2 separate regions of the Homo sapiens genome follow, and region 2 is linked to region 1. The links come from fine-mapping of genetic effects on gene expression. Tissue or cell type: aorta. Region 1 holds a variant in brackets; the other region holds the start of a gene. All regions are shown on one strand. Distances are between the middles of the regions. Region 1 overlaps TUBGCP6 (tubulin gamma complex component 6). Region 2 holds the start of MAPK12 (mitogen-activated protein kinase 12).

The links. PIP is the estimated chance that this variant, and not a neighbour inherited with it, causes the effect. A credible set is the group of variants that fine-mapping cannot tell apart.
Region 2: MAPK12 starts here. The variant in region 1 is the best candidate, but not a certain one, in a credible set for the expression of MAPK12 in aorta (GTEx, PIP 0.55).

The regions. Positions count from the first base shown.
Region 1 is chr22:50,225,986-50,237,842 of GRCh38, forward strand. TUBGCP6 (tubulin gamma complex component 6) reads right to left here. Exons shown (of 25, transcript NM_020461.4): 3 at 7,331-7,541; 4 at 3,419-3,592; 5 at 1,922-2,043; 6 at 1,014-1,092; 7 at 748-857; 8 at 302-393; 9 at 65-204. Among named protein-coding and RNA genes, the nearest start is that of TUBGCP6, 13 kb to the right of the region's middle. The variant G/A (reference allele first, on the strand shown) is at 3,151.
Region 2 is chr22:50,255,869-50,267,725 of GRCh38, forward strand. It overlaps MAPK12 (mitogen-activated protein kinase 12), which reads right to left and starts at 5,815. Exons shown (of 12, transcript NM_002969.6): 1 at 5,517-5,815; 2 at 5,299-5,428; 3 at 2,375-2,433; 4 at 1,214-1,325; 5 at 1,067-1,096; 6 at 731-778; 7 at 217-331; 8 at 1-13. The coding sequence starts at 5,641. It overlaps MAPK11 (mitogen-activated protein kinase 11), which reads right to left. Exons shown (of 12, transcript NM_002751.7): 3 at 11,701-11,759; 4 at 11,503-11,614; 5 at 11,389-11,418; 6 at 11,259-11,306; 7 at 11,066-11,180; 8 at 10,672-10,743; 9 at 10,358-10,437; 10 at 9,714-9,792; 11 at 9,453-9,626; 12 at 7,845-9,159. The coding sequence ends at 9,080. RefSeq lists enhancers at 2,834-3,406, 4,131-4,631, 6,201-6,932 and silencers at 5,054-5,233, 5,384-5,753, 5,784-6,093, 6,104-6,153.

The sequences.
Region 1 (11,857 bases):
AGCCTCATACTCAGCCCCAGGGAAGACCGGCCCCTCTCTTCCCCACACATGAGCCCCTCCTCACCCGGGGGCAGCAGAGCTTCAGCAGGTTAATGGTCTTTCCGCAGACGTATATGTCGTGGGCAATGTGCTTCAGAAACACGGGAACACAGTCCTCCACCTCTTTGGAGATGAGCACGTAGCCATGTGTCCAGTACAACTTATCTAAGGTAGGGTGAACACCACGGTGGCCGGCATGGCCATGGCCCTGAACCCAGGCCCACAGGCACGGACCCCTGCCCCGCAATCAGCTGCCACCTACCTCGGAAGCTGAGGTACTCGTGGTTCACCTGAATCATGAACTCGCCATAAGCGTCTCTGAACACCCCGCTGTACACCCAGTCGTGGATGAACCTGCAGTGGGGGAAAAGCAGGGGTAGATGTGGTCAACGGAGAGGTGGGTGGGGCGTGGCTGTCAGTGAGGGGTGGGACAGGGGCGTGGCTGTCAGTGAGGGGCAAGTGGGGGCGTAGCTGTGAGAGGTGGAGTGGGGTGTGGCCATCCATGAGGGGCGGGATGGAGTGGGGGCAGGGTGGGGGGTGTGGAGTGGGGGCAGGGTGGGGGGTTGGGGGCTCCTGCCCAGTCCACCTATCCTGCCCTCCCCTTCCTGTGTGACCCCCACATTCAGCAGGTGTCTGACAAGGGACCGCTCTCAAGTGTCTGCCTGGTGGGAGTGCGCGCCCGCCGCGCCTGCCCAGCCCACTGCCCACCGGGTGTAGGGCTCGCAGCTGGTCTTCAGCAGGGACAGCAGTACAGGGTAGTGCTCGTTGCTGCAGTTGTGCAGAGCCTCCTGGTAGAGGTAGGACAGCAGCTTCACGCCCTGCAGACCGCAAAGGGGGTGGGGGGCAGCTCAGCGCACCCAGCGCTGGGAGTGAGGCGCAGCCCTGCCGGCAGCAGCCCTCCAGGGACACGCTCAGCCACCCCCGTTTCCTGGAGCCCACCAGGCTGACACACTCGGCAGGGACGCACAACTCACGGTGGGAAACGCGGCCCTGGGGCCTCCTCCACAGGTGCCCGGGAGCACAGCGCCAACGCCACAGAGCTCGGCCAGGTACCTAGACCCAGAGGCAGGATGAGACCAGGTGACCGGGCTCAGGGTTCCCAGGCCTGGATCAGATCGTGAGCAAAGTCTCCACGTATCTTTATGCTCCCTGGGGCAACTAACTTTAGATGCAGGCTTTAAAAACCACAGGCACCCCAACCACCCAGAAACGGGCTCCCTGCAGGACTCGTGTGCAGCCCTGTGCCCCTGCGCTGTCCACACACACCCCACTGAAGTACCCACACCCAGCAGGCCCTCCCTCCCAGGATCTGGCCAACACACGAATCACCCTGATCCTCCCACTTCTGGGGGCTGCACCTGAGAGCCCCTCCCATCCACACAGTGGTACCAAGCATCTGCCACAACTCGCACCCTTCACAGCCCAGCTCCCCTGCCCCACAGTGTCTCAGCCCTTGGGTCTCCTCAGCGCTGCCACACTCTGCTCCTCAGCCTGGAAGGTCGCCTCTCCCACTGCTCCCAATGCCCAGCTCCTCACTCTTCCTTCTCTGATGGCACCTGCCAATAGCCCCCGAGCCTGGTTGCTCACTAACCAGCTTGTGTGTACCGGACGCCACATCTCCAGGGACCCTGTGTGCCAATTAGGCAGGAGCCACCGGACCTGGAGGGCCTGGATGGGGCCAGCTGTGGTGGGCCCACGGCAGACACACCCGCTCAGCACCGGGCACCTGGTGAACTCGGCCGGCCAAGGGCCATCCGGTCGCCTGCTGAGGGCTGTTCTCACAGGCCCTCCTTGCCAGGGAGCAGGGCAAACCCTCCACCACCCAGCAAGCCCCACACCGCTCCCGCAAAGTCCCCTGCTCAGCCGCCATGCTGAGGCTCACCTGAGCTGCCGGCCAAGTTTCTTGAAGAGAAAACCAATGGTGAGGAGGCTCAGGGTGGGCGGAGTGGAAAGGACGCAGGCCCGGTAATACTGCAGGTACCTCCTCAGGCCACTGGTGAAGGCCTGTGGGCAAAGAGGCTGGGAGGAGGGCGGCCAGGCACATGGACGCAGCCGTGCCCAGGGCCTGAGGGGCACCAGTGCTGGGAACAGCGCTTTGTTTCTTGCCTCAGCTCTGGGCTCCATTTCCAAGCAATGGGCCTCTGTGAGCCACACCCCGCCACCGGGCCAGGTGGAAATGCGGCCCATCCACAAGAAGCCAGAAGCTGTGGCCCACCACCAACCCTTCCTCTCATCTGAGCCCAGCTGCCCCAGGGGCGCCCACCACCAACCCTTCCTCTCATCTGAGCCCAGCTGCCCCAGGGGCGCCCACCACCAACCCTTCCTCTCATCTGAGCCCAGCTGCCCCAGGGGCATGGCAAAGGGGCTGGGGGGGAAATGGCGGCCGTGCTCTGTGCACAGACACTAGTGCTGTGAGGGCTGCAGCTGCTCCGACCACAGCTGTCTCAGTGGCACCAGCATCCTGGGCAACGCCACAGCAGCAGGCCCTGCAGGTCACACTAAGACAGGGGCACCCTGGACCAATCTCAGTCCACCCACCCCAGGAGCCGCCTGGCTATGCCTGCCAGATGAACAAGAACCACAGTCCAGCCCTTCTCAGCGTCCCCTGCTCTGACCCCTTCTCCACCATCTCTAGCTCTCAAGTCCCCCGGGGCTGAGCCTCTGCCTAGAAGCTCTCCCCGCCCCGTGCAGCTCCCACCATGCCCACCTCCACAGCCCATCTAAAACCTACACCTCACCACATCACCCCACCCGACAGCCCCTGCTGCAGCAGCAACAGTCAAAGGAGGCTGCGCTGCCTGGCTCCTCCAGGGCTCTCTGCCCACCTTCCCCAACACCCTCCTCTCAATCCCCCAAACCCAAATGCCCCATCATCCACCTGCCTATTCTCTCCCACTCAAGGTGCAGCCCCTGTCCCATGGGCCTCTTCCCAGCACATGAGCCAGCTTCAAGACTCACCAAACAGCAGCTTCCGGAGCCAGACTTGGCTCAGAACTCCCAGCAATGTAAATTCACCCAACAGGAGGGCCCTGCGCTGTCAGTCATCCACAATGTGCCGGGCCCACTGGGGAGCAGGCAGCAAGAGCCCCACTCACGCCTTTCCTGCCCTGC[G/A]CACCCCTTATGCTGGCTGCACCTGCCTCCTACACACCCCAGGGCCCACACAGCCCAGGGCCCACACACATCTGCCCCAAGTTTCTAGTGAGGTAAAACATCCTCACTGACCCATCCCTCAAGAGCCACTATCGGGTTTCAGATGTTAGCAAGGAAAGAAAAGGTTTAGACTCTCTGGTCCTGCAGAAGGACCTCTGAGATTCTCTCTTCCAGGTCGTGTGCACCGTTCTCACAAAGGTGTGTGACAACCATGAGGCAAAGGCCATACCTGGAACACGAGGCCCTTGCTGTACAAAGAGTCCAGGACGGGCTGCAGAGAGAAATGACTCAGGCGCGTGTAGCAGGTCCCATACTCGGCCACTTCCGAGAGCAGGCTGCTGATGCTCTCGGGAGACGCTCCTGACACGTGGACGCCCCGCTTCACCACAAAGGCCTGGGCCGGCTGCACAGGGGCAGAGGACACTGGTCACAGAGGCCAGGCACCCAGACCCCCAGTAAGGTGCCGTCTCCCTCCACCCTTGCACCCAACCCCACGCCACCTAGAGTGCCTCCAGGACCCAAAAGCAAATGCCCAGAAGGCATACCCAGAACTCCCACACCGAGGGACCAAACCGAGGCACAAATCCTCACTGACCACACTGAAAAATACATGTTTAAAATGCCAAGTGTAGAAAAGGGTAGAAAAAAACAGAACACCTTCCACAGGACACAAGTACACAGACAGCCTCCTGGGGCAGAAGCTATAAAACATGACGGCCGTGAGACCCGCTCATTTGACTCTTCGGGATGAATTAGAGAAATGATGGAAGATGCACAAAGACTCGCCACAGGACATTCTCCACAGTATGTTTATAACCAGAGAGTGGAGACCCCCAATAGAGGGCTCATGACAACCAAAACGAATGGGGTGTAGCAGAAGCCAGAAGGGAGGTTACAGCCGCAAATACCCACGTTAGAAAGGAAAAAAAATATCCCGCAATACAAAGGAACAAGATACCAAACCACAACAGCACCGTGTATACCCTAAAGAGATATTTTAAAAAGAGCTGTTAGGCCAAGCACAGTGGCTCACACCTATAATCCCAGAACTTTGGGAGGCTGAGGCAGGAGGATCACTTGAGCCCAGAAGTCTGAGACCAGCCTGGGCAACATAGCAAGACCCCCATCTCTAAAAAAATTTTAAAAGTTAGGCCAGGCATGGTGGCTCACGCCTGTAATCCCAGCACTTCAGGAGGCCAAGGCAGGTGGATCACTTCAGGTCAGGAGTTCATGACAAGCCTGGCCAACATGGCAAAGCCCCGTCTCTACTAAAAATACAAAAATTAGCCAGGCATGGTGGCGTGCACCTGTAGTCCCAGCTACGCAGGAGGCTGAGGCAGGAGAATTGTTGAATACGGGAGGCAGAGGTTGCAGTGAGCTGAGATCACGCCTTTGCACTCCAGCCTGGGAGACAGAGCAAGACTCCGTCTCAAAAAAAAAAAAAAATTAAAAATTAGCCAGCCGTGGTGGTGCATGCCTGTTGGTCCCAGCTACTCGGGAGGCTGAGGCAGGAGGATCAATTTGAGCCTAGGAAGTTGAGGCTGCAGTGAGTCATGTTTGAGCCATTGCACTCCAGCCTGGGTGATCCTGTCTCCAAAAAAAAAAAAAAAGAAAGAAAAGAAAAACAGGCTGGACGCAGTGGCTCACATCTGTAATCCCAGCACTTTGGGAGGCCGAAGCAAGCGGATCACTTGAGGTCAGGGGTTTGAGACCAGCCTCACCAACATGGTGAAAACCCATCTCTAATAAAAACAAAAATTAGCTGGGCGAGGTAGTGCACGCCTATAATCCCAGCTACTCAGGAGGCTGAGGCAGGAGAATTGCTTAAACCCAGGAGGAAGAGGTTGCAGTGAGCTGAGATCACGCCATTGCACTCCAGCCTGGGCAACAGAGCGAGACTCTATCTCAAAAAAAAAAAAAAAAAAAAAAAAGCAGTTAAACCCAAAACTAGCAGAAGGAAACAAAAAATAATTAGAGCAGAAATAAATACAGAGTAGGCCAAGCACAGTGGCTCACACCTGTAACACCAACACTTTGGGAGGCCAAGGTGGGTGAAATCACTTGAGGTCAGGAGTTTGAGACCAGCCTGGTCAACATGGTGAAACCCCATCTCTACTAAAAATACAAAAATTAGCCAGGCGTGGTAGTCCATGCCTGTAGTCCCAGCTACTTGGGAGGCTGAGGCAGGAGAATCGCTTGAACCCAGGAGGCGGAGGCTGCAGTGAGCTGAGATCACACCACTGCACTCCAGCCTGGGCGACAGAGTGAGAATCCGTCTCAAAAAGAAAAAAAAAATACAAAATAGAAAAACAATAGAGAGAACCAAACAAAAAGCTGGCTCTTTGAAAAGATCAACAAAATTGACAAGTCTTAGCTAGAATAATTAAGAAAAAAGATGACTAGGGCCAGGCACGATGGCTCACGCCTGTAATCCCAGCACTTTGGGAGGCCGAGACGGGCGGATCACAATGTCAGGAGATCAAGACCATCCTGGCTAACATGGTGAAACCCCGTCTCTACTAAAAATACAAAAAATTAGACGGGCGCGGTGGCGGGTGCCTGTAGTCCCAGCTACTCAGGGAGGCTGAGGCAGGAGAATGGTGTGAACCCGGGAGGCGGAGCTTGGAGTGAGCCGAGATCGCGCCACTGCCCTCCAGCCTGGGCCACAGAGCGAGACTCCGTCTCAAAAAAAAAAAAAAAGAAAAGATGACTATGAAAACAAGAGAAAAAAATCAAGTTACTAAAATCAGAAATGAAAAGTAGGGGCCGGGCGTGGCGGCTCACACTTGCAATCCCAGGACTTTGGGAGGCTGAGGCAGGCAGATCACTTGAGCCCAGGAGTTCAACACCAGCCTGGGCAACACGGCAAGACCCCATCTCTTCAGGCATTTTAAAAATTAGCTGGGTGGGCCGGGCGTGGTGGCTCATGCCTGTAATCCTAGCACTTTGGGAGGCTGAGGTGGGCAAATCACCTCAGGTCAGGAGTCAAGAGACCAGCCTGAGCAACATGGTGAAACCCCGTCTCTACTAAAAATACAAAAATTAGCCAGCCGTAGTGACATGCACCTGTAATCCCAGCTACTCGGGAGGCTGAGGCAGGAGAATTGCTTGAACCCGGGAGGCAGAGTTTGCAGTGAGCCGAGACCGTGCCATTACACTCCAGAATGGGCAACAGAGCGAGACTCTGTCTCAAAAAAAAAAAAGAAAAAGAAAAAGAAAAAGAAAAGAAAAAAATGAGCTGAGTGTGGTGGCACGTGCCTGTAGTCCCAGCTACATGGAGGCTAAGGTGGGAGGATTGAGATTCAGCCCAGGAGGTCGAGGCTACTGTGAGCTGTGATGGTGCCACTGCACTCCAGCCTGGGCAAGAGAGAGACCCTGTCTCAAAAAAAAAAAAGAGAGTCAGGGTTGGTTCCACACAATAAGGCTATCCCCACAACAGACAAGATGAGCTGTGAGCACGGTGTTGAGAACAGGCGCCCTCAGCGCCGGCAGCAGCTGGAGCTTGCTGGTGAGCACTTTTCTGGGGCAGTCACTGGCTGTGCTTCTAGTCCATTCTGAAGTCTAAGAATGGCCACCATAAAAGAACATTTAAGACAAAGGAAGGGGATGAGCACTTAAATGAAAAAGCTGCAGAGCAAGACTTCATTTTTCTGAATATATCCATTCACTTCTCCAGTGCCCAGCAAGAGGGCTGGCTAAACTGCAGCTGGTGCCAGAACCAGTAAGGCCCGGCCCCATCCCGGATGACACCGCATCCAGTGAGAAGAGCAGCGCAGGCCCCAGTCTCGGGACGCTCTCGGCAGGCAGATGCTCCTCCCGAGCGGTGGGAAGGCTCGGAAGGCGCCTGGCACTTCAGGACGGAAATGGAAATGCGGGGAGGAACATTTTCTATCGCTTTGCTGACAGCAATAAACATGTTATTTCTCTGCAGTTTTTTAAAAGGACATTAATAAATTAACACTTTTTAGAACCGAAATGGGATGATGCTGGCTGTCATCACTGGTGGCCCTGGGAGCTGGCCTTCCCTGCCACTCCCCACTCCCTGCACTGGGGCTTGTTCTGCCCCATAAAGGGCTGGGCACTGCGTGGTGGAGGGCAGGCCAGCCCCACACCACTGTGGCGGGGAGTGAGCAGTTCTCACCTGGCAGAGCGAAAACGTGGCAGACACGACCCCAATCAAGACGTTCAGCACGTCTTTCACCAGCTCGCACTCCTTCACCAGCACGGGCTGCGGGGCCTGTAGGACGCCCCCAGCAAGCAGCTGGAGCTCCCCTTGGTGGAGCCTGCAGAACTTGTCGAAAGCGTCCCTTCCCGCCTCCGTCAGGTAAGGCTCCTCTCTGTGGCCAGGGGGGCTGCGAGGGGTGCAGAAGAGAGGCCATGAGCAGACGTGGTGACCTGCACCTCAGCACCAGGGTGCTTTCTCTCGGGAATGGGCATGAACAGAAGAATGGAAGTGATTCAAAACAATAAACTCTAAGAAACATAGCCAGGTATGAATGTCAGCTCACCACCCAGCCTTTTGTGGATGCTGCTGCTGTGAATACCAGCACGATCGATTCTATCAGGACAACTCATGTGGAAAGTGTTCCAGGGCACCTTCCTGGGGTCCTGGGCATGGCCGGGGGTATCCGACTGGCCCAGCCCTGGAAGAGCACCCCAGGCCACGCCAGTGGCCCTCAAGATGGTGATTCACTCATAAAGTATTCTTCTGTTAGAAACAAAACAAGATTTGTACACCCATGTACACAACAGCATCTACACCCTGTCCATGGCAGCATCCACACCCAGGTCCATGGCAGCATCCACATCCCTGTTCATGGCAGCATCATCCACACCCCTGTCCACAGCAGCATCCACATCCAGGTCCACTGCAGCATCATCCACACCCCCTGTCCATGGCAGCATCATCCATACCCCATCCATGGCAGCATCCACACCCCCTGTCCACAGCATCATCATCCACACCCCTATCCACAGCAGCATCACCCACACCCATCCACGGCAGCATCATCCACACGCCCGTCCACAGCAGCATCTACACCCAGGTCCACAGCAGCATCATCCACACCCTCTGTCCACGGAAGCATCACCCACACCCCTGTCCATGGCAGCATCACCCACACCCACCCATGGCAGCATCATCCACACCCCTGTCCACAGCAGCATCCACACCCCTGTCCACAGCAGCATCCACACCCAGGTCCACGGCAGCATCATCCACACCCCTGTCCACAGCAGCATCCACACCCAAGTCCACGGCAGCATCATCCACATCCAGGTCCACAGCAGCATCGCCCACACCCCCGTCCACAGCAGCAGCATCCACACCCCTGTCCACAGCAGCATCCACACCCAGTTCCACAGCAGCATCATCCACACCCAGGTCCACGGCAGCATCGCCCACACCCCCGTCCACGGCAGCATCATCCACACCCCTATCCACAGCAGCATCATCCACACCCCCTGTGCACGGCAGCATCACCCACACCCCCGTCCACAGCAGCATCTACACCCAGGTCCACAGCAGCATCATCCACACCCCCTGTCCACGGCAGCATCACCCACACCCACCCATGGTACCAGCACCCACACCCCCGTCCACAGCAGCATCCACATCCAGGTCCACAGCAGCATCATCCACACCCCCTGTCCACGACAGCATCACCCACACCCCTGTCCCTGGCAGCATCACCCACACACACCCATGGCAGCATCATCCACACCCCTGTCCACAGCAGCATCCACACCCAGGTCCACGGCAGCATCGCCCACACTCCCGTCCATGGCAGCATCCACACCCAGGTCCACCGCAGCATCATCCACACCCCTATCCACGGCAGCATCCACCCCCTGTCCACGGCAGCATCAGCCACACCCCTGTCCACAGCAGTATCCACACCCCTGTCCATGGGAACATCATCCACAACCCTATCCACTGCAGCATCATCCACACCCGTGTCCATGGCAGCATCCACACCCCAGTCCATGGCAGCATCTACACCCCTATTCACGGCAGCATCATCCACATCCCTGTCCACGGCAGCATCATCCACACTCCTGTCCATGGCAGCATCCACATCCCTGTCCACGGCAACATCCACATGCCTATCCACATGCCTGTCCACGGCAACATCCACATGCCTGTCCACAGCAGCATCCACACCCCCGTCCACGGCAACAACATCCACAACAGCCAGGGGGAGAGGAGCCTGAGCCCCCAACAGAGGAGGATAAACACAGACCGTCCGTGCAGACCCCTGCCCATCATTCAGCCTTAAAAAGGAAGGCAGCTCAGACACGTGCTCCAGAAGGCACGGCACTCAAGGACGCCGTGTGGAGTGCAATGAGCCATCACAAAACACTGTCTCCACAGGGACGGCGCTCGAGGACGCCAAGTGGAGTAAAATGAGCCATCACAAAACACTGTGCAACTCCACTTACATGAGGTCCCTACAGTGGCCAAAATCCTAGAGACAGAAAGTGGAGGCCAGGTGCGGTGGCTCATGCCTATAATCCCAACACTTTGGGAGGCCAAGAAAGGCAGATCACGAGGTCAGGAGTTCAAGACCAGCCTGGCCAACATGGTGAAACCCTGACTCTACTAAAAACACAAAAATTAGCTGGGCGTGGTGGCGGGCATCTGTAATCCCAGCTGCTCAGGAGGCTAAGGCAGGAGAATGGCTTGAACCCGGGAGGTGGAGGTTGCAGTGAGCCAAGATCGTGCCACTGCACTCCAGCTTGAGCAACAGAGCAAGACTCCATCTCGGAAAAAAAAAAAAAAAAAGTGGAGTGAATGGGGAGCTGTTTAATGGGTTCAGAGTTTCCTGCAGACTTGCTGTGCAGCAGTGAAAATACACACAGCATTACAAAGCTGTACAACTGGTTAAGACGGTAAAAACATTATATAAATTTTACTGCCCCACCTCAGAAAAACCGTAAGAGATGGATACAGAAAAAAAAATTCACAATTTTTTTTTTTGAGACGGAGTCTCGCTCTGTCACCCAGGCTGGAGTGCAGTGGCACGATCTTGGCCCATTGCAACCTCTGCCTGCTGGGTTCACACCATTCTCCTGCCTCAGCCTCCCGAGTAGCTGGGACTACAGGCACGGGCCACCATGCCTGGCTAATTTTTTGTATTTTTAGCAGAGATGGGGTTTCACCGTGTTAGCCAGGATGGTCTCGATCTCTTGACCTCGTGATCCGCCCACCTCAGCCTCCCAAAGTGCTGGGATTACAGGCGTGAGCCACTGCACCTGGCTAAGTTCACAAATTTTTAAGACAGTAACAGGTAAGGTGGGCTGGTACAGGCAGCCCTGGGCACATGCAACTCTGAGGAAATTTGCCTTCTGCTGGTGCTGAGGCTGTGAAACCACATGTACTGGCACTACACACACTCACACCCCCGTCCTCCCTGCGAAAACAATCAGCTCCAAGAAACACACTTTTACTGGCCACCTCTGCTATGAAGAGGGTGGGCTGGAGGGGGCAGGAGGAAGGAGACCAGCCCTGAGATGTCCAGTCAGCAGGTGGGGCCGCTCTGGACCCCAGACGCCTGCCCAGGCTCCCTCAGGATGAGATGAGCATGAGAAAGACACAGCCTCTCAGAGCCTCTGTCTGCCCCCTGCATTTCTTCCTGCAGATGGCCTCGGCAGGGGTGCAGGCTGTGGGCACAACCCTGTTTCCCCCTGCAGCCACTTCCACCCCATCTCCTCCAGGACTGGCCCCCAGCACTGCCATGGCTGCACACCCCTCTTGGTGACTCAGAACTGAGGGAAAAAAAGCCCACAGCGGAAACACAAAGACACAGCGCAGGATCCTGCAGGCTCTGGAGTGAACACCCCCCGCCCCAACAGGTCCCCAGAGAGAACACAACCCAAAATGTAGCAAAATGCTTCCCCCAGATGGGTGGCACATGCAGAGAAAGAGACCATTCCAGGGTCTGAAAGGCCTCCCTCCGCCTTAACCCAGCCCTTGCAGCTCAGCAGCAGGGAGGGCCGTGAGCAGTCGGACAATGGTGGTTCTCAGGGTGGGCAACAGCAGGGGCGAGTGGCCCCCCGTGGGGTCTTGGGACCTGTGGGAAAGCAGGGTTGATGTCTTGGAGAGTGGAGAAGGCTCAATTTCTGGCTAGGCGGCAGTTTCTTTAGCCACCTGCTGGTCAGAGCTCATCACAGCAGGAAACTAGCAGGTGGCTGGGATTTAAAATGAAACAAGACCAAACGATTTGCCAAAGGAACTTGAACCACAGCATCAGGCTGACCCGACTGCAGTGTCAGGGGCCGTGGGATCAGGGAGTAGAGGGGCCCAGGAGACGTAAACTCAGGTCCAGCCACTGTGTGGCCCTGTGCAGGTCAGCCACTGGACACTGAGATGACCACAGCACTTTCACTCTGCAGGGCCCTGGGCAGAGAAAGTCCCTACAGGAGCTGCCCAGGCTGTGCTCAGCACACTGCCAGGCACACAGCAGCACCTCCCTATAGGAACCACCGCCAGGCCCCACCGTGCCGGAGCTCCGCAGCCTAGGAACCACCGCCGGGCCCCACCGTGCGGGAGCTCCGCAGTCTCCAGCGTATTCAGAACAGGGTGATGAGGAGAGTGAGTGACCATGTCTCCTCATCAGCAACCCGAAAAAATGAACCTAGAAAAGGGGGAGTTAATAAATGAAATACA
Region 2 (11,857 bases), 30 kb after region 1:
GACCAGATGTCCACTGAGATAGAAGCCCTGGTCAGCTCCGTGGGCAGGGGGACAGGATGAGACGGGGAGGGAGGAGACACCAACACAGCCCACCTGCCCGGCTCCCACCCCAGCTCAACAGCCTCCCTGGGAGCAGCCACCACAGGGCTGTCCGTGAAGAAGTGGAGAAGCAGATGGTGCAGCCTGAGAGGCCCAGATCTCTGGGCAGCTTCTCACCCGTCTGCGTGTAGCGCATCCAATTCAAGATGACCTCGGGAGCCCGGTACCACCGGGTCACCACGTACCCAGTCATCTCACTGTCTGCCTGCCTGGCCAGGCCGAAGTCCAGGATCTGTGGGAAGAATTGGGGAGGTGGGTTCTAGGGGACTCCCAAGGAGCGGACAGGCCACCCACGGTCCAGGAGACCCCGGGGGGTTGGACTTGAAGCTCCCAAGCTGGGGCCTCCTGACAACCTTCAAGGACTTGAGGCCACGCCCTCGGACCCCAAACTGCCCCGAGCTCCTCCCTCTGGCCAGTGCACCAAGCCCAGCAGCCCTCGGGACGGAGCAGGTGCCCTGGGTACGGCATGTTGTGTACCACTGCCTCTTGGGCTCACCCACCCACCAGCTCCTCAGCCACTGCCCAGAGCCTGGGACCTTGGCCCCCTGCCCAGGCCTGACAGGTGGATAGATGGGCAGATCCAGAGGGGGCCCCTGCCCCACCTCAGGGCCCCCTGCCAGGCAGCACACACCTTCAGCTCACAGTCTTCGTTCACAGCCAGGTTGCCGGGCTTCAGGTCCTGGGGGCAGAGGAAAGGTGGCCACTGTGCCCCACCCTCCCAAGCATGGGCACAGCCAAGAGCCTGGGTGGCACCTAAAGATGGGGCCACCGGACCTGGCCCCCTTGCTCTCTGCAGCCCTTCAAGGGCAGACCAAGGTACCTGGGCACCCAGGCAGGTTCCCACCAGGGGCTGTGCATAGGGCGTGGCTCAGCACCCAGACCCCATCACATCCTCACAGGTGGGACGTGGAGGCGGGGGGATTGCACTGGGGGAGGGCTGATGAGCGGCTTCTCCACCGGGACTCACTCTGTGGATGATGCCGGCAGCGTGGATATACTGCGGGGGGCAGAGGATTTGGCAGGCTTCAGCGCACCCTCTCAGAGCCACAGGGCCCTCCTCTGCCCAGCCCCGAGGCCCTGCCTGCCTCCCTGCAGCCTCCCCCGGGGCCCGTACCCTCAGCCCCTTCAGCATCTGGTACACGAGGAACTGGATCCGGTCCTCGCCTAGCTTCTCATGTTTCATGAGCTTGCCCAGGTCGGTGCCCATGAACGGCATCACCAGGTAACTGTGGGAGGGGCCGGAGCGCTGTCAGCGGACAGAGCCAGCCTCTGCATCCCAGAGACCCACCCAGCAGGCCCAGGCTCAGACCCGTCCCGGATCCAACAGGCACCCCCAGGAAGGTCACCCCTGCAGCACACATCCACACTGGCCTCGGTGTCCTCGCAGCCCCACCTTGCAGTGCCAGGCTCCATCCTCCCGCAACTGTTACTGCCAGCAGCGCTCACACCCCCCTCCCACCCTGAGGACTGTCAGGCAGGGAGGAGGCTGCCTTGGGGTTTTTGAACCCTCCGCTGAAGCGCCCTGCGTGCCAGGCTAGGGGCTGAGGCTCCATGGTAGAGGCAGCAGGACTCGAGTCTTCACAGGCAGGGGAGGGAGGCAGTCAGGTTTCAACTTCACAACTTTGTGCCAGAAATGAGGGAGGTGCCTGGGGGCGATGGGGGCGCGGCAAGGCATCTGGGTCAGAGGGGTCGGCTGGGCCGGTGGAGACAGACACAGGAGAATGGTATTTAGCACCTTCCCAGAGGCCACTGACTTGACCTCTGCAAGTCAGGCGGGAGGCGCCTGCTACCCTCTCCAGGCCTTCCTCGGCCTGGCCCTTCACTCTTGGCCGACAGGGTGTGAGTCCCAGGGTGGTCGGCTGCAGGGCAGGGGCAGGGTGGGTCCTCCCTACCGCTTCTCCCCCACCCGCTGGAAAAGGTCAGCAGCTCCAGTTACCGGCCACACACTTGGTGCCAGGGTCCCGAGCACGGGACCTTCCTGTTAACAAATGGTCAGGTCCAAGGTTCACACCTCCGGTGCTGGAGAGGGCCCAGGTGCCAGGCGTGGAGAGAGGCAGCAGCCCCAGCTCTGCCCAGCTGTGCCAGTGCCCGTGGGTCCCAGGACCATGTGGGGGAGGGCGTGGGGTGGACAGTGGTATGGGGAGGGGGTGGGCGGTGTGCATCCCCCACTCAGGCTGCAGGAAGAGAACCCCATTGCCAACCTAGAACCTGAAGCCAGTGCCCAGAGCTGCCCAACACCCCTCGTGCCCAGCGGCCAGCCCAGGTCGGCACTCACAAGTCCGTGAAGTCATCCAGGGTCTCATCAGGAGTGAATACGTCCAGCAGCCCGATCACCTGGGGGGGCCACATAGGGTTGAGAATGCAGCAGAGGACACGGGCTGGGGCACCCCCCAAGAGTGGCACAACCCTCTGGGCAGGAAACCCCCTCTGCAGCTGTCATTGTCATGCCCCACTGTCCAAAGGGCCTGGCTCTGCCCACTGGCAGTGTGGCCCAGCCCTGGCACACATACCCACTGGCAGTGTGGCCCAGCCCTGGCACACATACCCACAGAAAGGTTATTTTTGGACGGTGACAACCGGGATCTTCTGGGGGAGGGGCAACCCGGAGTCTGGGATGGCTCCGAACCATCCAAAGGGCTCCTGCCGCCTGACCCTTTCACCCCTCTTCACCCCAACCAAACAGATCCAGGCCCAGGGTGGGGACAGCGCTATGGAAAGAGGCCAGGCCTCTGCTGGTGAGGCCCAGGCGGACAGCACCGTGACCCACCAGACCTGGTCCCCTCAGCACCCCTGGTTGGGGAGATAGACAGTAGACAGGTCATGTGACAACTGCCGCCTCAGCATTTTGGGGTGACGGTCCCAGGGAGGCCTGGAGTTTTGCACAGCCAAGGGTGGAGGGGCAGGTAGACATGTGGGCTGCGGGACACCTGGCAGAGGGCACACACAGAGTGGCCGAGGCAGGAGGGAGCACACTTGGATAGTTTGAAGAATACAGGGAGGGAGGCCAGGTGGCGGAGGCCCAGGCCAGGGAGGGGCTGAGGAGAGGCCAGAGGGAGCCGGCAGGGCAGCACACACCAGGTGGAAGTTTGGCTTTGATCCCAAGAGACGGGGACGATTTAAATGGGGACGTGAGGCTAAATGCGTCCTCCTGGCCGTGGTGTAGGAACCGGCCAGAGTGAGGTAAGAATGGACACAAGCTGGAAGGACAGCTCCGCCGGAGCCACGTGGGCCAGAGCCATGGGCAAGAATGTGGAGGGAGGAGGAGAGGGAACAGAGGGGGTGTCCAGGGGGCAGCGGGGACTGTGGACATGAGAGCTGGAGGGTGCCCGGGAGAGTGCTTTAGCAGAAGACGGAGAGCAGGGTCCTGTGGGCTAGGGGCCACAGGACTTGGCCTGGCCTCTGTGGTATGGGGGCTGGCCTGGAGAGGGAGGCGGCCTGGCAGGACTGAGGCCTGTGGCAGAGCCTCCTCCCCCGCTGAGCAAGGCACGTGGCCTCACAGAGCTTCAGTCTCCCAGGAAGATGGGGTTCCAGGGAAAGAGCCTCAGCTGCAGGCCAGGAGCCCAGGGGGTGGGCCCACAGGCACAGCGGAGATCCCAGCACAGCGGGGCGGTGGCTAAAGAAAAGCCCCGGTGGAGCCCGGCGCGGTGGCTCACGCCTGTAACCCCAGCACTTTGGGAAGCCGAGGCGAGCAGATCACTTGAGGTCAGGGGTTCGAGACCAGTCTGCCCAACATAGTGAAACCTCATCTCAACTAAAAATACAAAAAATTAGCCAGGCGTGGTGGCGCGCGCCTGTAATCCCAGCTACTGAGGAGGCTGAAGCAGGAGAATCGCCTGAACCCAGGACGCGAAGGTTGCAGTGAGCTGAGATCGTGCCATTGCACTCCAGCCTGGGCAACAAGAGCGAAACTCGGTCTCAAAAGAAAAAAAAAGAAAAAAAGCCCCAGAGCGCTTGGCTGGATGGGGCAAGGCACGGGTGGGTGAGTGGGTGGGTGGGAGCAGGGGGCCGTGGGGAAGGCTGCAGTCCTGGGGCAAGGCCTTGGTGTGATGGGCGGGTGGTGGGGGGGTGCGGTGCCGGCGAAGTGGGGGCAGGGCTGGGTGTGACGGGGTGTCGAGGTGCGGGCAGGGCTGGTGTCCACTGCAAATGGATTTCACAGGGCCCAGGGTAGTGAGCTGGGGGTCAGGGTGGGCATGGGAAGCCTCAGAGAAAAAGACCCATCCAAGGGGCTGAGGGAGTAGCGGTGGCCAGGAACCGGGGGACGGGGCACTTTGCTGGTGGACGGGGCACTTTGCTGGTGGACGCAGGGACTCGTTCTCCCAAGGCACCGGTGGCTCAGATGACCCAGGAGGGTCCAGAGCATCTCACCCTGTAGGTAGGGTCCGGGTGCCCAGACCACCAGCCCTCAGGCTGGGCCCAGACCAGGGGGAGGGCAGGAGTGACGTGGGGGGCAGTGGACAAGTGGGACTGTATCCAGAAACCAGAGCACCCCTGGCAGAGAGATCGGGTTCTTAGCAGCCAGCCACCGCCATGGGAGAGGCCCAGGGCAGCTGTACGTGGCATCTCACTGGAAGGACTGGAAAGGATGGGCCCCCACAACGCACAGGAGGGTGTCTGTGAGGCGGCCACCACGCCCAGTGCTCCTCAAACAGCAGCTCCCTAAACCCTTCACCCCCAGGGGCTCCTGAGGGTTCAACACACTCCCTGCGTTCTGGCGCCCCCCTCCTCCCCCTCCACCACCGGGTCGGAAGACTCGGGAGATGGACAGCAGCAGAGTGGGCTCCACAGAGGGGCTGGAAAGGGGATGGGGAAGAGGGAAGGTGCCCCTTCCAGGAAAATCCTCCCGCCGGGAGCATGCTCTCACCGCGGGCTTCCTGGCTGGGGGCAAGGCTTGGCGTGAGACCTGGAGGATCCCCTGGGCCTGGCCAAGTCGTGTTCCCTGACCAGGGCCTGGCTGAGGCGCCGAGTCAAGGGGCTGAGTCCTTCCCGGGGCTGGCGGAGGATGGGGAACGGCCCTTGGGGGAGTCGTCTCCCAAGGAGAGACAGGCCTTGCTCTCCTTCTCCCCTGGGGACCCACGGCCCGACCCCCGCCCGGCCCCACAGCAGGCTGCCTGGAGGAGGGGTTGCCGGGTGGGGGAACCCAGCCCAGCTGAACCAAGCCGAGGCCGCGGCGCCTTCCCGGAGCGGGGCCGCGCGACTCACGTTCTCGTGGCGCATGTGCTTGAGCAGGCGCAGCTCGCGGTAGGCGCGCTTGGCGAACAGCTCGGACTGGAAAGGCCGATACAGCTTCTTGATGGCCACCTTAGCGCCGGTGCGGCCGTCCACGGCCGAGCTGCGGGGCGGACCGCTTAGCGGGAAGGCCGGGCACCCCGCGCAGGCCCCGCCCGCCCCGCCGGCCGCCCCGCCCGGCCCGCGCTCACCACACCGCGCCGTAGGCGCCCGAGCCCACGGGCTGCAGGTCCCGGTACACGGCGCGCACCTCCCAGGCCGTCTTGGTCACCTCCTGGCGGTAAAAGCCACTGCGGGCGGGCGGCGGAGAGCTCATGGCAGGCCCGGGAGCTGCCCACCCCGCAGAGCCTGCGGGCGGTGCCCCCACGACCGGGGACGGGGCTCCCTCGGCGCGCGCCTCGGGCCGGCTCCGCGCCGCTCGTCCGCTCGCCCGCCCGCCCGCCGGCCGCTGGGGCGCTCCCGCTCCCGGCCCTTCCCTCAGGGATGTCCCAGGTGCCGACCCCGGCCCGACCCCGACCCAGGCTGCGCACGGCCCCTCCCCCGCCCGGGGACCAACCGGCCCGCGGGCGGCGCGCACGTGACGCCCTCGCCCGCCCTCCGGCCCCTCCGGAAACCCGAGGCGGCCGCCGCCGGGGGAGGGCCGGAGCCTGGGGAGGGCCGGAGCCTGGGGGGAAGCGCAGGGGGAGGGGAGCGCCGCCCCGCAGCTTCGTCCCCATAAAGGGCCGGACGCGGCGCGGAGATACCTCTGCCAGCCTCTCCCCTTTGGCTGAACTTCCCCGCCCTGGGGGGGTCTCAGCAGGAGCCCCCCCCCCCCCCCCCCGCCCGCTCCAGTCCTAACTCCCCACGGCTCCAGGGCGCAGGGCCCATCCTTGACAGCCTGAGCGCTGACTTCTATGGCAGCCGCAAGTCGGGCTGAGCCCTGTGTTCCCGGGGTCAACTTCGCAGGCCACCCCCAAGGATGCCCTACCACTGAGCCTGATCCATCCGTCCCCCAACAAGGGGTCCATCTGCACCTGTCCTGCCTGTATCCCTCTTTCTACACGGAGGGGTCTGTCCCCCAAACTCCTCAGGCTGCATCCCCAACCCCACTCCTGTGGCCACTGACCCCGGGCCTCTCAGTCCCATAGGTCCCCGTGGGCCCTTTTGGACCCCCAGCTCCTCCCCCTGCTCCCCCCATCTGTGGGGTGCCTGCTCCAAGCATTGCAAGTACTGGTGTCTCTGCCCATCCCACCCCTGCCTGTCCTGTCCTGCAAAACCCAGGCTGAGAGTGGCTGCACTCTCTCCAGCAGGGATGGGGACCTGCTGGGGCCCTCCGCCTGACCCCTCTGTGTGGGCATTGTCCTCCCATAGGTCTGGCCCCATCCTGGACCAGATGCTCCTGAGGGCAAAGCCCCACCCTGACACCCCTTCACCAGCCCAGGAACCTGGATCTCAGAAGGGATGTTGGGGCACCCCAGGAGCCCACTGGGCTGGTGGGTAACAGGATCCCTAGGGCCTTCTGCCCCGCCCTCCTGCCATGAATCAGCAGCTCAGCCGCTCAAGGGTGGTAGTAGCTTTACACCTGGGCTTGGGCCGTGCTCCACGGCATTCACCAGCTCGTGACCAGTGAGCGGGGCAGCCCAGGGCCACCCAAACCACAGCTGCCTGTGGCCCATACCCTTTGTGCCCTGGGCTGCCTGTGGCACTCCATCCACCTCTTCCAGGAAGCCCAGCTTCCACGCTGTCCCCCTTACTCCCCGTGGTGGGGCTCAGGGGTCCAGCAGGCCCTGCACGGACCAGGCTTCTGAGGTGGGGCTGTGTCACCATTCTCCTCCCACCCCCAACCGCCAACACTGGACTTCCCCCGGGATTGACCACTACACTGACCAGGCCCCAGGAGGCCCCCAACTCCCAGACGGTTTCCACCCCTACCCAAGACCCAAGCAAGGGCACAGACTGTCCCTGGTCCTTAGAGACACTGCCTGACCCCAAATGGCCTGGACCCTCCCCCACACATAAGCTGCAGCGCGTAGTGGGAACGGGACCAGCGTGCACATTCCCTGGGTTAAAGTGGCCTCTTTTTCCTTCACCAGGAGGGAAAGGAAAGCTATTTTCCCTACCCTGCCCAGCCCCCACCCAGGGATGGGCAGACCCTTGCTCCTTGAGACACCCAACTTCTCCCCAGCCAGCTTCCCTGAACACTGAGGGGTAGGCGGGGGTGGTGTCTGGATCTTGGCCCAAAGCCAAGCCTGCCCAGTACATCCCCACAGGGCAGCTGGGGTCACCATCTGGGTGGCTGTCACACCCTGTGCCCTCAAAGTCTGCCCATCAGCCATGTCTTCCCCTGGTCCCCCTGGGCTCTCAGACCCTCCAGGGAGCAGGGAGGGTGCCAGAAGATGGCCGCTGGTCTGACTGGGGGCCTGAGGGATCTGGCCAGCTGGAGGTGAGTGATGCAGGATGACCCAGACACTCCCCCCACGCCCAGCAGCAGGGATGGTGGGGGCACCCGGGCCTGGAGTAGCCTTTGGATACAAGCCAAGTGAGAGAGAACCCCCTTTATTGTGCACCCCTGGTGCAGGCACTTGACACCCAGGCTTCCCTGGGCCCCTCGAGGCAAGAGGTCACCCCCTTTCCAGGGCAGAGCCACACCCCCAACTCAGCTCTGGGCAGGGTCCCGTCTCCGAGGTTACTGGATCAGCTCCATCCTGGGACAAGGAAAGAGGACTGACCCACAGACCAGAGCACCTCAGATCTCCGGCTGCAGGGCCACAACGGTGGGCAGAGGTAGAGAGCGGGCCAGGGTGCAGGGCAGAAGTGTCCGAGTCCAAGTCCACATCCAGGTGTGCTGCCTGCCCTAGCGTCCTCAAGGCCAAACCACCCACCCACCCACCCCCAGCCTCAGGAAGCTGCTGTGGGTCCCACATCCAAGGAGAAAGCCCCTGCCCATGCTCATGTGGTTGCCCTTTGGCCCACTGGAGCCGCCAGTCTGAAACACCCCTCAAGGCATCAGGAACCGAGGAGAGGGAAGGCAACAGCACACCCACCCCGGCTCCAGCTTCTTGCCAGATATGGCTGCTGGCCTTGGGCGCCCACAGATTCACACGCACCACATCACATGTGCCCTGACATATGAACACGGGGAGTGCACGCTCATCCACACGTGCCCACACACACCCACGGGTGAACACAAGACTCCAGGCAGCTTTTCTCATTTGACACCTGGTGGTTGTCCCTGCCCAGCCTGGTGGCACACTGGCTCTGCCTCTCCTCTTAGACCTGTGGGTCTCAGCAGTGACCAAGACAGCCCCCTACCTCCAGGCTGAGCAGCTCTAACCACTGAGACCTCTCCCTTTGAGTCTCCCGGGGTCCCGGCCCCAGCGCGTCCTCCAGAAAGCCCTGGGACAGAAGAGAGCCCAAGGCTGACACTCCCTTGGGTCGGCCTGGGACAGACAGGGGAACTCCGCAGGGGAACCCCTTTGGCATCTAGGACCCCACAGTCAGGTCCCAGTGGAGAGTGCAGTAGCCAGAAGAGGACAGGAGGACCAAGGTAGGCCCAGGGACACTTGTGCCCAGACTCCTACACATGGCAAGCACATGTACACACATGTTTGTGCATGCATACATGCGTGTAGATTCTCCTGAAGGCGAGGGGTCCTAGGCCAGAAGTCTGTGACCATAGGAGTGTGGGAGGTGCCTCTCGAGGAAACCAGGCCAGCTGTGGAAGGGTGCAGGCCCAAGCCCCTCCACAGGCTCTCAGGGGCTGCTGGGCAGCACCTCACTGCTCAATCTCCAGGCTGCCAGGTGGCTTCGGTGGCTCTGGGGGCTTGAAGCTGAGGACTTCCTGGTAAGTGAGCTCTAGGAGGTGAAGGGAAAGGGTGAGCTTGTGCCTCCCACAGCCCGGCCCCTCACCTGCTTGTCTGGCACCTGCCACCCAGCCCAGGCCCACCACCCTGTGACAGCAGCCTCAGCACAGTCTGGGAGCCAGAACCTGCCCTGTGTCACTCCTCCGCCCCGCTCCCAGCCTGTGCTGGACACCTGAACGCCCTTCCACACCTGACCAGTCTGGAGAGGAACTGGGGCATTTCCTGCCTCTGGGGAAATGGAGCCCGCAGGCCCCTGGACCCACCCCCAGCCACTGCCATGCTCACCCTTCCACTCCTCCAGCGTGCGCTCCTTGGCCTCAACGCTCTCATCATATGGCTCGGCCTCTGGCTCATCCTCGGGGTCGTGGTACTGGCTGAAGTAGGCGTGGGCCAGTGCCTCAGCTGCACTGACCCTCTGGTCACTGTCCAGCACCAGCATCCTTCCAAGGAGGTCTATGGCTGCAGGGAAGCCAGTGGTGGGGAGGGGGGTCAGCTGTACATCCAGGGCCAGATATGGAGCCCAGTCTAGCCCAGGGCAGTCCTCACCCAGGGGGTTGGCTCCACGGAAGATGCTGCTCAGGTCCTTCTGGGGCATGGGGGGCAGGGACTGGATATATGTCCGGGCCTGGGGGCACACAAGAACACCTGGGGAGGCTGCTCACTCTCTGCCTCCCTGGCCCCAAACTGGGGCTTCTCTTGGCAAGCCCCCAGACTCATTCACTCCAACAGGCCAGGACAAGGGCACAGGCAGACCAGTGACCCCCTCCATATAGGATCTGGTGGTTCTAGCTCCTCAGTTGGCCCCTAATGCCTGCAGGAGCTGGGTCCAAGTACACTCCCTCCACCCAGCCCACCCCCACTGCCCTGGCCAGGCACTGCTTGCTGGGGTCCCCCAGCCCACCCCCACTGCCCTGGCCAGGCACTGCTTGCTGGGCCCCCAGCCCACCCCCACTGCCCTGGCCAGGCACTGCTTGCTGGGGTCATGGCTTTGCACTCACTGTCCCTGGTGTCAGGAATGTCTTCCCCCTTCTCCTGTTTCCCCTGCAGGGATTGGGCACCTGCCCTAGGCTCTATCCCACCACATCCCATGTTCCCCATATGGTCCCCGCATTTCCACACCACCCTCTCCCCCAGAGAGCCTGGGGGCTCAGCCAGGAGAGGGAGCTGCTGGCTGGCGGGCACCAACTCACGTGTTCTGAGGAGATTTTTGCCAGAACCTCAGGGCTGGGTGTGCCCACCACTTCCATGATGCGCTTCAGCTGGTCAATGTCTGTGTCACTCAGGAAACACCCACGGGCCAGCCACAGACCCCTCCTGGGCCCCCAGACCCAAAACTTTGGGGCGCTGCCCAGAGCCCGCTCTCCTATAGGTGAGGATGGCCAGCCCAAAGTAGCATAGCATGGGGGGCAGAGGAGGCAAGACCCGCCAGAAGGGGCCAGCGCTGGTCCCTACCCTACAGGAGGGGCCCTGTTTGACCCTGCTCCCCAACCTGGGCCAAGGATACAGTCGCTTCCCGGGAAGAGGGCCTTGCCCTGGAGCAGCTCAGCCATGATGCAGCCCACGGACCAGATATCCACTGTGCGAGGGCGAGGGGACCTCCATCAGTGTGCCCACCCCACGTCCCTCCTCCAGGAGACCCACAGTCACATCCAGACCCCAAGATGGGCAGACCCCCTCCTCTGCCATACCCAACCCCCCTAGGCAGGGGGAGGTCCATAGCTGCACAGCCAGAGGAGGCCAGCACCCATCATGCTCTAGCGGCCTCTGAAGGGCTACTTTTGAATGTGGGTCCCACATTCTTGGGGACCTTGCCTGCCCCCTAAGACCTGGCATGCAGAGCCAGTCGAGGGCCAGACGAGGCCCTTGGCCTTCGTCCCCCCAAGGCCTTCCCCCTGCACCTGTTTGGTTGTAATGCATCCAGTTGAGCATGATCTCAGGTGCCCGGTACCAGCGCGTGGCCACATAGCCGGTCATCTCCTCGTCCGCCTGGCGCGCCAGCCCAAAATCCAGGATCTGGGGCGACCACGTGGTGTTCTCAAGCTCCGCACGGGCTCCGCCGCCGCCCTGCCCACCCCTGCCCACGGGCCTCACCCTGAGCTCACAGTCCTCGTTCACAGCCACGTTGCTGGGCTTCAGGTCCTGCAGGTCACGCGGAGCGTGAGCACAGGAGGCTGGGACGGAGCCCTGCTGGACCCGACCCTCACCCTGCGGTCGCACCTACCCGGTGGATGATCCCGGCCGAGTGGATGTACTGCGGGAGGGGGATTGTGGTGAGCGCCGGGCCCGGCCCGCCCGCCCCCCTGCGAGAGGACCCGCGAAGCCCAGGGCGCCCCACCTTCAGCCCGCGCAGCAGCTGGTAAACCAGGAATTGAACGTGCTCGTCGCTCAGCGCCTGGCACTTGACGATGTTGTTCAGGTCGGCGCCCATCAGGGTGGTCACCAAGTACCTGGGGCGGGGTCAGGGGGTCAGGACAGGGCCCCACCGCCCCACCGCGAACGCGCTCCCCGCTGCCTCGCCCGCCCCGCCGCTCACACTTCGCTGAAGTCCTCGATGGACGTGGCCGGCGTGAAGACGTCCAGAAGCCCGATGACCTAGGTGGCGGGGGGCGTCAGGGCCGGGCGACGAACCCCCGGCTGTCGTTCAGCTCCCCCCGGGCCACGCCCCCAGTGCCAGGCCGCGCCCCCTGTGT